Homo sapiens: one gene and its partner. The protein of the gene in region 2 interacts with the protein of the main gene of each other region in a pairwise test. Each region holds a gene or a part of one and is shown on either strand. Other genes may lie near its edges.

Region 1 (6,882 bases), about 150 Mb from region 2:
TTTAACAAGAAGTTCTAGGCTACAGAAAAAAAAAAAAAGCGATTCTATGCTAGTTTCCTTCATTCCCCCACAGGGGTGTCCAAACAAAGAAAGCTTGTTCAACAAGTCCAGAAACTTAGAGAAAAAAGTCCACTAGCATTTATACTTCAGCGTAGATCGTATGTATGTGCACACAAACAAATTTCGTTCCAAGTATGCAGCCACCTCCAGTTGCCAGTCTTTCAAAATGATAAAAACTTGCTACGGTAGAATTCCTTCATGATGAGCATTTCTTTTAAGTTATTGAAAAGTTATTTTAAGTAAATGAAGTCGGTATTTGCCCTCTTTATTCGAGCACGAGAGCAGAGAGAGAGCTGCTGCTCTCTGGGGAACGCTCTCAGAATCCCGTTCTAACCCCGGGAAAACTCAGCAGACAGAAATCGCCCGCCCCAAGCAGCCTGGGGCCTGGGCGGCCAACAGCACCCACCCAGTTTACGCTTGATTCGAGGAACCTTCACTCCCGAGGGGCCTCGCCGAAAAGCAGCTCCTTCGCTCCCGAAGCCGCTCCCAATCGGCCAACTGACAACCCTTCCCTCGCCCCAGATTTGCTAGGATGGTCTGGGACCGCCGGGCGGCCCCTCTACCTGCCCCTTCAGCTTTAGTCCCGAGCCTCTCGGGGTTTCAATTTGGGCTGCTCGGTGGCGCCCGAACGCCCCTCAGCGGCGGTGGAGCGTGGACTCCGGCGCCTGGCGGGGTAAGGCCCGCGGCAAGGGCGCTGCATCCGGACATCGCTGCGTGGTGCCCAGACGCTGGCTCCCGAGAACGGGCACGAGCCCAGCACGCCGGAGGACCCGGAACTCGAAAGCCCGCGCTGCGGGAAAAGAGACTATCGGTCCGAGGGTCGCAGAGGAGCAGGGGCGTTGGCAGCGGGCTTGCTTGGGCACAGTCTGCGGGCCGGAGCAGAACTTCCGCCCCTGGTCAGATCCCTCGGCCTCAGATCCAAAGCCCTCCCCTTGTCCCAAGTGTCCTCCAGAGCCTGGCCGGGCCTGGAGGTCACCTGGATGCTGGATCCTTGTCTCCACACCCAGCTCCCTCGCCCCTTCCCGGCTCGAGGGCCTTGAGCTGGACGGCTTCACCTCCTCCAGTGGTGTCCCCACTTCCCCTTCCCGCACCGCGGCCGATGCTGGAACGGTCATGGCTTCTGGCCCAGCATCTCCCACCTGGACATTTGCCTAGCGACGGCCGCCTCAATCCTCTGCGCTGCTTTCAAGAAACTTTCATCCCAGTCTCTCTCCCTCTCCACTCTCCTCCCTCTCCCCCTCTCCTCTTTCTTTTCTTAATCCTGGGGTTTTATGGGCTGAGCGTTAAGAAAATTCGCCTGCAATTTGGGATTAGATAAATACTCTAATTAGGAAAAAAAAAATCCGTGCTACTTGATACCTCCCAACTTCCCCGAGAATGGTGGCAGCATCTGGAACCGAGAGCGCCGGCCTCCCGCGAGGCGTACCCCGGGGACCGCGCTGGCACATTCCAGAGCGCACTGCCGTCCCACCTCGCTGCGCCGGACCCAGGTCAGGTGCTGAGGCTGCAGGCGAAACAGGGCCTGGTGGAGGGAGGAATGAGTTAAGGTGGAGGAATGGGGCAAGGTCACGCGCCCCGGCACTGGAGGGCCAACCCCGGCACACAGCGGACTGGCCGGGACTAGGGCAGCGCCGGGCTATGGACGCGGACGCCGGCGAAGCGCACCCCGGGACGTCCGCATATTCTTTCCCCCAAAACTAGTGCGCTCCAGCCGGCGCCTTTCCTCGGAACCTAAGGAAGGGGTATATTTCGTTGCTTTCTTTAAACCTCAGCACGATCACAGTGGCTCCGAGCCGCGGGCGGCTGACCGCGGGCCTCGCGGGCTACTCCTGGTAGGGGCCTGCGCGAGCCTAAGGTGTGTCCCCGCCTGGGTTAGCGCTGCGCTCTGCACTGTTTCTTTTCCTCTTAAAGCTTCTTTCTCACTCACTCTCTCCCTCCTTCTCTCTCTCATTTTTTCCCCATTTCTCTCGTTCTTTTATTCAGCTTTCTCTCTTTCTCTCCCTTTTGTGAATGGGCCGCGGTGTCTTTGTTCTGTAGAGAAGCGCCCGTGTCGCTGACTTTTGTGAACCAGAGAAGGATCTTGTAAAACCTCCTTTTCTCCTTCGTACGCCCCCACTCCCACCCCTCCTCCCCTGCCTCTTTGATTAGATGTTCCCTCATCGTCAAAAAAAAAATGTAATTTCGTTGGTCTGGCGGCCACTTTCTTTGAACATTAGCTCGCTTTCAGCTCCAACTTCAATTAGAAGGAGTTGATTTTGAGAGATCAACAAAAGAACCGACCAAAGCCTTATTAAAGGTCCTAAGAAGATCTCCCGGGTCCTTTGAGAAGCAGTTAAGGAAACAGTGTGCCCTCCATCATATTCTGTTACCGTATTTTATTCGGACTCCAAAGGAAAGTGTCGCTTGGGGGAGGGGGAAGCACTTTGATGAGCGGCGGCCGCGGCCCCTTTTCACTCAGCGGGCTCCCCCTTCGTTCTCCTCCTCCTCACCCAGCGCCCGGTCCGCTCTCGGCGCCCGACCCCGCAGCCCGGGCAGCGCGAGTGCTCCCCACTGCGATGCGCCTGGAGGCTCCTTGACTTGCCCTCACACTTAATCCTGTGCAAACTTTTTACCCCGCCTGTCGGGGTGGGGGAGTGGGGGAGATTAGAAACAAGGGGTAGAAATTCCTCGAAAGGGAATAAAGTGCCTAATTTTCAGGAGGAGGTGCCATTTAAAAGATTCGCCTAGCTTAGAGTTGGAACGAAAACTCTTTTTTGCACTTTTAAAAGTCCACCCAGGTAGACGTGTTTGGGAAGTTTTTTCGGGTGGGAAATGGGCTTCGCCCGTACGAACAATCCGGGGAAATCGCCTCAAGGAGGATCCTTACGCAGCATGTGGAAAAAAGTTGAGGGCAGGGGTCTGTGGCCACATTTTCCATCAAAAAGTCCCTGTTAGAGGCAGTCTAAGAAAGAGAGAGAAAGAGCGAAAAAGAAACTTTCCTATCAAAATGTTTCAATTAAGAAGTAGGGTGTACGTGTGAGGGGAAGAGGACGCTGGGCTCCAACGTTTCAGTAGAAGCGCTTAAGACTTGCAAACACCCTTGGTGGGGACCTGGAACCCCGGGAGATGCCGACGAGCAAGCAGGTAAGTGGCGGCGCCCTCCCAGTGGGTGCTCTTCCCAGGCGCGAGAGTCCGGAGGGGCCGAGGAGAGATCTGCACGCCCGGAGCTGCTCCCGCGCTCTGCAAAGTAGCCTGCGCCGGCACGAGCAGCCCGCGGCGTCGGTCTCAGGTGGCGGCGCCGGGGAAGAAAACGCTGGGGCCCGCGGCGCCGGGAGAGGGGCCGAGGCCCGGGCTCCTCCAGCCCGCCGCCCCCGGGTCCTGGCGCCCACACCCGAGCGGCTGAGCCCTGTAGCGCGCGGGAGAGCGAAGGAACCGGTTCTCCAGCACCTCGCCTCCTCCCTGCCACTCCCTCCGGAGCGCCGAGAGCGCGAGAAGGGCGGGGGCGCCCAGGGCAGGCCTGGAGACCCACGGCCCCCTCCGCGGCCAGGACTCGGGCTCTCCGCTCGCCTTCCTCGCCTAGCTCTGCGCCGCTTTTGCCAGCCGAGTCCCGGAGTTAGCGCGCGACCGGGGCGGGGCGGGAGGGCGGGGAGGGCGGGGTGTGGGGGGCGGGGGAGGGCGGGGGCGCGCGGAGGTAACCCCCGGCTCGCGCAGCCATTGCCCGGCTCCCTGTCACTCAGCCCGCGCGGGGCCCCCGATTGGCGGCCTAGCCCCGTTACGCACTCGCCTCGCGTTCACATACCCGGGGAGGGCAGTAGAAAGGTGATCAATCTTCATCAGGCTACATTTCCAATCACCTAAACAACCGAGCAAGACAAGCCACTCCGACAAGGTAAATCGCTTGATTTATTTAGTTTGCAAAGTGACTCTGCAGGACTTCCCAGTCCCCACTGCCTCCACGTTGCACCGGGAGTGCCGCGGCAACGCCGAGCCACCTCCCAACTCTGCCCCTCGAATTCCCCCCCTTGCGGCCCCTCGGCGCGATCCCAGGCGAGGCAATGTCCTGAGAACGTGTGGGGCTTAGCAAACAAAGTGTCTGTGCAATAAAGTGAAACCCAGAAGGACACGCACAAAGCCATTGAAAAAAAAGATAGAGGTGGGAAGAAGGAAGTTGGGAAAAGAAAGAAACCTGGGGGTCCTAGACCAGCCGCCAGGGTAATTCCAGTGCTGCTCTGTTTTGCAGGTTGGCTGCCCGGCGGGTCTCTGTGAGAGATCCAGGTAGATGGTGAACGGCCCCGGCAGCTGAGGGCAGGTAAGGAGAAAGCCGCGGGGCCACCCCGGACTCCGGGAGCGCGTTGGTTACCCTTATCTCCCCCTCCTCAAATGGATCCCGGCTTCCCCGGTCCCCAGCAGGTGGTCGGGGCTGTGGGAGCGGCCTGGCTCCCCTCTTGGTGAGCCGAGGACCCCGGGGCGCTGTCGCGGCCCGCAGCCCCCTCCCCCGCCTCCTCCGAAGTAACCAAGCTGAAGTGCTAAGTTTGGAGAAAGTCTTTGAAAACTCACGCTGCAGCTTCGCAAAGCCGTCGCAGCTTTGAGTCCCATTTTCCTTCGGCCCTAGAGCCCTGGCTGCTTCCCTTCCGGTCCCCTTCCTACAAGCTGGACTCCCTCAGCCCAGGTCTTGGGTCCCAGAAGACGGGGGCGGGAACGGGGCTGGGGGGAGCTTCTTTAGCTCTAACTTCTCTCCTTGAACGTCCTAGCCCGAGTCCCTGGCTTGCTTCACAGCGATCCCGCTAAGCGGGGTGTAGCGATGGCCCCCCAGGGCCCCAGGCCCAGTTTCCAGCGCCCCTCCCTGACCCCTGAGAGTGGCACCCCGGGTTCCCGGCAGCGGCGGGGGCGAGGCTTCGACCTCCCAGCTCGGGTCTGCGTGGGCTACGCCGCTGAGGCCTAGTTCTCTGTTCTCGACCGTGTCCTGGGGCCGCGGGTTCAGCTACAAGGATGGCAGCACGCGACTTGCTGCCCTCCGGCTTCACAAATCCCCGAGACCCTTTGAGGTGCTAGGCCAGTCACCCTTCACCCCCTGCTGGGACCCTGCGGTCCGCAGCCCAGACTGGGCAGAGAGAAGGCCGGGTGCGCGCTGGCAACGAAGGACGCTGGCCGCAGCTGAGGCGCTCCCGACCTCAGGCCGCATCTTGGGGTCGCCCCCCTCTACAGTGGCCCCTTCGGCGTCCTCTGGCCCTCTGCGAAGCCTGGGCCCGTTACTGCGGTTGAGGTGCGGTGGGATTTCGCGTCAGCGATCTTTCAGTGGCTGGGCACAGAGAGGTCAGCTGGAGTGGTGATTGCGGGATCTGGGGCAGGGGCGCAGCCCTGGAGACCTTTAAAGGAACCAAGTGTCTAAGTGGACAAGAAGTGCAATTAGCCCTCCACATTGGCCCTTTGTAGTCTCTACCTTTTCAAAAACACGTGAAACAAAATGAAACAACGCCTCATGCTCTGGGCGGCCTGCCGTCCGGGCACCAAGTGAACCTTTGCTTGTGCAACATGAAGCTGGCTTCTGCCGGATTCAGAATTTTGCCTGGACTTGGGAGCTTGTACACTCCGCGGTTCTGGCTCTGACCTCCCCAGCCTGGCCCTGCTTTTAACTTCTCCTTACTCCTATGGACTCCCTACCAGTGTCTTTGGCTCATTCCAACCCTAGAGCCAGACGACCCAGAAAACTTTACTTTTCAAAGTAACTGTGGTTTCTGGGCTAAGGCCTTGTGGATCCCAGTTGACCACCCTGCGCAGTTCTGTAACCTGCCTTCCCTGTCTATCCCGGGGCAAGACTTGGCAGCCAAGTGGCTCCGATTGACGGTTTCCGTGTGTCTCGTGTCTTCATAGGCCAGGCCCCCAGACGCATCAGACCCTGAAGGACTGCGTGGTGGGAGCCCTGCACCGCTCCTGGCCCCGGGCCCCCTGGATCCGTCGGGGCGCCTCCACCCAGCTGTTAGCATGATGTCTTACCTCAAACAACCCCCATACGGCATGAACGGGCTGGGCCTGGCCGGGCCCGCCATGGACCTCCTGCACCCATCCGTGGGCTATCCGGGTGAGCACCAGCCCTCCCGACCCTGCCTCAGCCTCTCAAATGTTGGGGACCCCCAGACTGTTGGATTTGAGTGCAAGCTTTGTTGCTGAGCAGGCCCAGGGAGCCGGCTGCAACACAGGGCCCACTGTCTGTTTACAATACAGGGCCCACTGCCGGCGCATGGGGCAGAGTCGTGGGCGTGTGAGGTGGCCAGGGCTGAGAAAACGCGCAATATGCGCCTTCCCGGCCGGATCACCGGCAACCTTTCTCCGGTTGTGGTCCCACCGCCAGCGCAGAGCTCATTTACTTGCGGATTCGCTACCCAGGGGCGGCTAGTATTTTTCCTTTTTCCCCAACATGGAATGTGTAATCTGGACACTCGTTAGGCCCTGACAGAAAGAGCCAAACTTTCCTTATGCGAAGCGGCAGGCTGCACTGAAGGAGTATTCTTCCTCCCTAATTAAATTGTCCTCTAAATCGATGTCCTGCACCCATTTTTGCGCTGCTGTAGAGGACGACTTGAGCCAAAGCCGGGGTTTCTTTTTTAGCTCCCGCTCCTTTACCTCATTTATTTTCTCCGAAAGTGTTTTTCAGGTCGTGTTTCTGCCTACCTCTTCCCCACTCCCTGTCCCCCATCCAGAGTGTGTGTGTGCGTGTGTGTGCGTGTGCGTGTGTGTGTGCAGGGGAGAGGGGATGTAGAAGAAGGGAGATTGTAGACTTCTCTTAACTTTTTTAACCTCTGAGAGGCATAGAGAGGGGCAGCCCTCGAATCTTGGAGACACTGG
Region 2 (4,450 bases):
AACTTTTATAATAAAGAATTCCTGCTTTGCTACTTACTAGCCTGTGACTTTGGGCAAAGCATTTAGCCTCTTTATATTCCGGTTTCCTCAAGAACAAAGCAGAAATGACAAGAGTTCCTCTCTCATAGGTGTGCTGTGTGGATTGAATACAATCCTGTGGGCACAGAGCTTAGTACGGGGCCTGGCTCAGAGCCAGCACTCAATAATTATAGATTATCGTTAGCATAGTATATGGATCTGGGGTCAGGAAAAGACTTTTCCTATCACTTACCCTGTCACTGCTGGCTTATTTGAGCCTCCTCTCGGATCCCCAAGTCAGCAATGCCTTGCGTTATGAAAAATGAAAATGTGTGCAGGCAAATGCAAAAGCTAATGCTTCATTCTAATTGAATACAGCTCTAATGACACATGTACTTTCAAATGATAGAAGTAACCGAGAATTAGTCATTAAATAATGAGGGTAGGGAGAAAGGAGAAATGTGGGAAGGAAAATATACCACAAACAATGTTTGCTGGTTAACACACTTTATATTTAACAAAATAATTTTTTAATAATATATTCTTTTACACATCAAATATTGTTGCTAGAATCCCCTTTTTACAGTTTAGTGTTTAGGTTTTTTTTTTTTCTCACTAGTTTTCAGGCACGCCATTTTTCAAAGATTTTAGAAACTGAATCGTTTTTAATAGGCATCAGCTGACAAACAAGATGTTGATCCCTTATTTTAACATAGCTGTTGTTAAAGCCGAGAACCAAAGGCGGAGGAGAAATAGGAGTACAGAGATGACAGTGTGGCTGCAAACAAAGACTTCACAAGAAACAAACAACAGATGAGACCAGAGCTCTGTTGTTCAGAGTCTGGAAAGAATTTCTCAATGACCTGGGTAGAAGGAAGTTGTAAAATGTTTATCAGTTTATGAGAAATTGTCACAGTATAGGTTCATCTCTCCCTAAAGGGGGAAAAATGTCAGTGCTACAAAATCTTAAAGGAAACAGCCTGCAGTGAAACTTTGAGAAAAAGAAAATCCAACAACAACAAAACCAACCATAAAAATCCCTCTCTCTAGCTGGTTATCAGAGGCCACAGAACAGCCTGCTTTCTGCAAACTCTCTGAAGAGAGATCCTTAATGGATGTCCCATTCAATTCTAGTAAATTCTTGCTGTGACTCTCGCTGTGCCAATGCTTTGATGCAAAATTTCTGCACTTCAGCTTCCCAGTTGTACTCTCTTTCTGTTTTCTAAAAAAGGACATAGTAACTCCTTAATAATAGATAAGGTACTATGCTGCATGGCTCTATTAATGATATTTTCTGAGTTTCAAACCTTATTCCTGTCATTTATTATTATTATTTCTTTCCAAGAGTGTGGATTTTTGAAGTTGGCAACAGGCAACCTCGGGGCAAAGAAAGCTCTATAATACATCTCTGTCTAGACATAAGCTAAAGTGTGGAATTCCTTTACTTTTGAGTGCAGACATAAATCATGCAGCATTGCTCATGAATGATTCATGACTGTCTATATGATGTATCCATGGTGGCAAATGAAAGGCACCAACCTTGCTGCAAATTGGTGTTCTAAGGGAAGGTGGCTTGATGCTCTTCCTCGGGATGGTGCCGGCATGGCTATTTGTATCATAACGCAAGCACAGTGTGCATAAGAATGTCAGGTCTGACTCGTCAGCACGTTAATTTTGGAAATGACAACTCTTTCTTGATGACAGCAGATGCTTCCAGGGAGGAGAGGCTGACAATTTTAAATGAAAAACCAGTTGACAAGACTCAAAAAAATATGTTTCCTGAGGGTGGGCCTATAGCATTAGAAGCCTCACTCTCTATGGAGAAGACTGACCCCTTGGAAATGCTGACTGTGTATGTCCCATAGGGATCAGAAGCTCACAAAAGCCACAGGTGCTGCTAGAGCTTGCCTACTGTGTCCCCTGCCAGAAACCACTCTATACTGATTATTCTAGACCACTGGTTCTCAACGAGGTGAAATTAGGCCCCTCACTCCCACTCCTTAGGGACATTAGGCAATGTCTGGAGAAATTTGGTTGTCACCAGTTGCTGGGATGTTGCTAGTGGATAGAGGCCAGTGATGGTGCTAAACATCCTAAAAGCACACAGGACAGCCCCCACCAACGAATAATGATCTGGCCCCAAATGTCAATCCTACTAAGATTGAGACACCTTGCTCTAGAATATGGCTCTCCACAGGAGCTATGGCAAAGCCCAGGTTGGGGGAGCAGAAAAAGAAAGAACATTGATAATAAAGACAACTGTAAAGTCTCTTCAAGGACCCTATCAGATCTGTGCCAGGGTTTTTAGGGCAGGAGCATGGAATAAGCGACTAACTATGCCATGTGGTTTCAGAATTGTTAATTTTGCACTTGAATCGAGGTGGCATCAGATACCCTGTGTGTTTTGTTTTTTCTGTTACTATACTAGCAGCATTACCAGGGCAACCTAGAGACTCTTCAAAGGTTCACTTTAATTTTTCAGTATCTAATATATACATTTTAAAAAATGTTCAACAAATGGAATTGTATTGTGCAAGACTCACTCTACCCTAATCTTTAATTTAAATCAGCACTTGAGGTGGAAAGGGTGTCCTGAATCTGTGTTTCAGACATAGGGCTGAGTGGTTGTTACTACAACATGGCAAACACAGTCCCGAACCACAAAAACTGCCAGTGTGTACTACTGACTTTTAGCCAAATCTGAACTCAAAAGCCAGAGATGTTCATAAGGATTTGGATTCACAGTGGGTTTTCTCACCCTGGTTCTGGTATTTATATTGCCTGATGACAGTGAGTTTAGAGTGTGTTTAGCTACAAACCAAACTCAAATTTCACATCATGAAAAAGTCTGATGATTAATGCTACAATTTTAAAGATCTGTCTCTCTTTGGATTCTTTAGTTGAGCTTATGGTGTTCTTTACGTAATAGATTTTGATTGGCAGTTTCGAGGTTTTCCATATGAAATGTGTGGTTTGTAAGAATTAAATTGTGAGCCCCCACGTAATGGACAAAGTACTTGTTCCCAACCCTGTCCAGCAATAGGCCCGTCTATGTGCCCACCCCTCTTTCCTTAGTCTACAGGGCATGATTCACCCTAGGGGAGCAATTGACTGGATGCTCTTGTGTTTCCCAGCTCGGGAAAGATATTTCCCCTGACATTCCTTTACCAAACTTTTTTTTTTACACAACTCAAAACTTTACTGTGCAGTCAAATTTAGCCCCTTAGACTCTAAAAGTGAAAAAACAAATATTACAGGAGAACAATGCCATGTACAATGTACAGAAGAGTAAAAATGAAGTAAACCAGGGGACAGTGAGCTGGTAGGTCAGAGGCATTACCAGGGAAGGAGCCTGTGCAAGGCTATTTCTTTCTTTTTGTTCCAGCAATCCAGTCGTCAAGTCACCATCAAGCATTGGTAAATACAAAAGCGATTTAGATAGCTATATACTATATATATTTTATATAGCAAGAGAGAAAGAAATTTCCTCTTAGGAAAATATTCACTTTTGTCAACCCTAGAAAGTTTTGCTGGTGACCCTGTTGTAGCTGGCAGGAGTTTGTTTGTTTTGTTTTGTGTTAAACATGTGCAGTGTTGAAGCCATAGCATCCTTTCCTAAGAACTCATCATTGGGTGGAAGTTTGTCCTACACAGTCTGCTTGCCTTGGCATTCACGTTTCGAACACTGAGCAGGCTTCCACCAGTCCCCGTTGTGACAATGACAGATGTTACATTCGTCCACTTTCACTTCAATGCCAGCTGGAATTATCGTCGTTCCTGCAAAGCAGTTTGGACCTGAAACACACAGATACATTGATTAGTTGATTAAATCTGAGAGGCTCCCTTTCTCCCCACCATCCAAACCCAAGCCCCAAAGCCATAAATGAGTAAGTCAGACTACTCTACTGACTTATCATCAAGGAATTTTCTAGCCATCTCCTTGAAATTCAAAGTTGCAACTCTGCTACCTTTTGCACACAGCTCATATTTCCCGTGTATATTGTGAACTTAAATAAAAAGAGACAATCTTCAAAAAAAATCGTATTTTCTGCTTCCTGAGTACATGCAGTTTTCTAAATTTAGGTTCTGTGGGTTAAACTGTATTTGTTTTGTCCTCTGAGGTGTAAAGGCTGCCAGCGTATGCTCTGAAACACGAGGGAGGGCTGACATGGTCGGCCTCAGATGGTGGCACCCTTGGCCTGTCCTTCTCTTTTCCTGTGGTGGGTATGAGACAATAAACTCGCTCGTTCCCCAGTTTCAGTGCCTCCCCAGCCCAGTTCCTGGAATCCCCAGCTTGTTTCTTGATAACAATGAATAATTCATGACCAGATGATTTATTCATGTCCTGAACAAGCTTTGTTAGAGGTTCATTTGATTTTTATAAATGGACTTCCTTTAATCTGCTGGCTCTTTTTTTTTTTTTTTTTTTTTT

Evidence for each region. The genes of interacting proteins can lie anywhere in the genome.
Region 1: the proteins of VWC2L (region 2) and OTX1 interact in binary tests that used the Homo sapiens proteins (3 or more experiments, as listed by UniProt).

Annotation. Positions count from the first base shown.
Region 1 is NC_000002.12:63,046,970-63,053,851, forward strand, and holds the start of OTX1 (homeobox protein OTX1), read left to right. Parts: upstream 1-3,860; 5' UTR 3,861-3,928; intron 3,929-4,279; 5' UTR 4,280-4,348; intron 4,349-5,910; 5' UTR 5,911-6,021; coding exon 6,022-6,118; intron 6,119-6,882. UniProt on the Homo sapiens protein: Probably plays a role in the development of the brain and the sense organs. Can bind to the BCD target sequence (BTS): 5'-TCTAATCCC-3'.
Region 2 is NC_000002.12:214,575,035-214,579,484, reverse strand, and holds the end of VWC2L (von Willebrand factor C domain-containing protein 2-like isoform 1 precursor), read right to left. Parts: intron 3,814-4,450; coding exon 3,665-3,813; 3' UTR 509-3,664; downstream 1-508.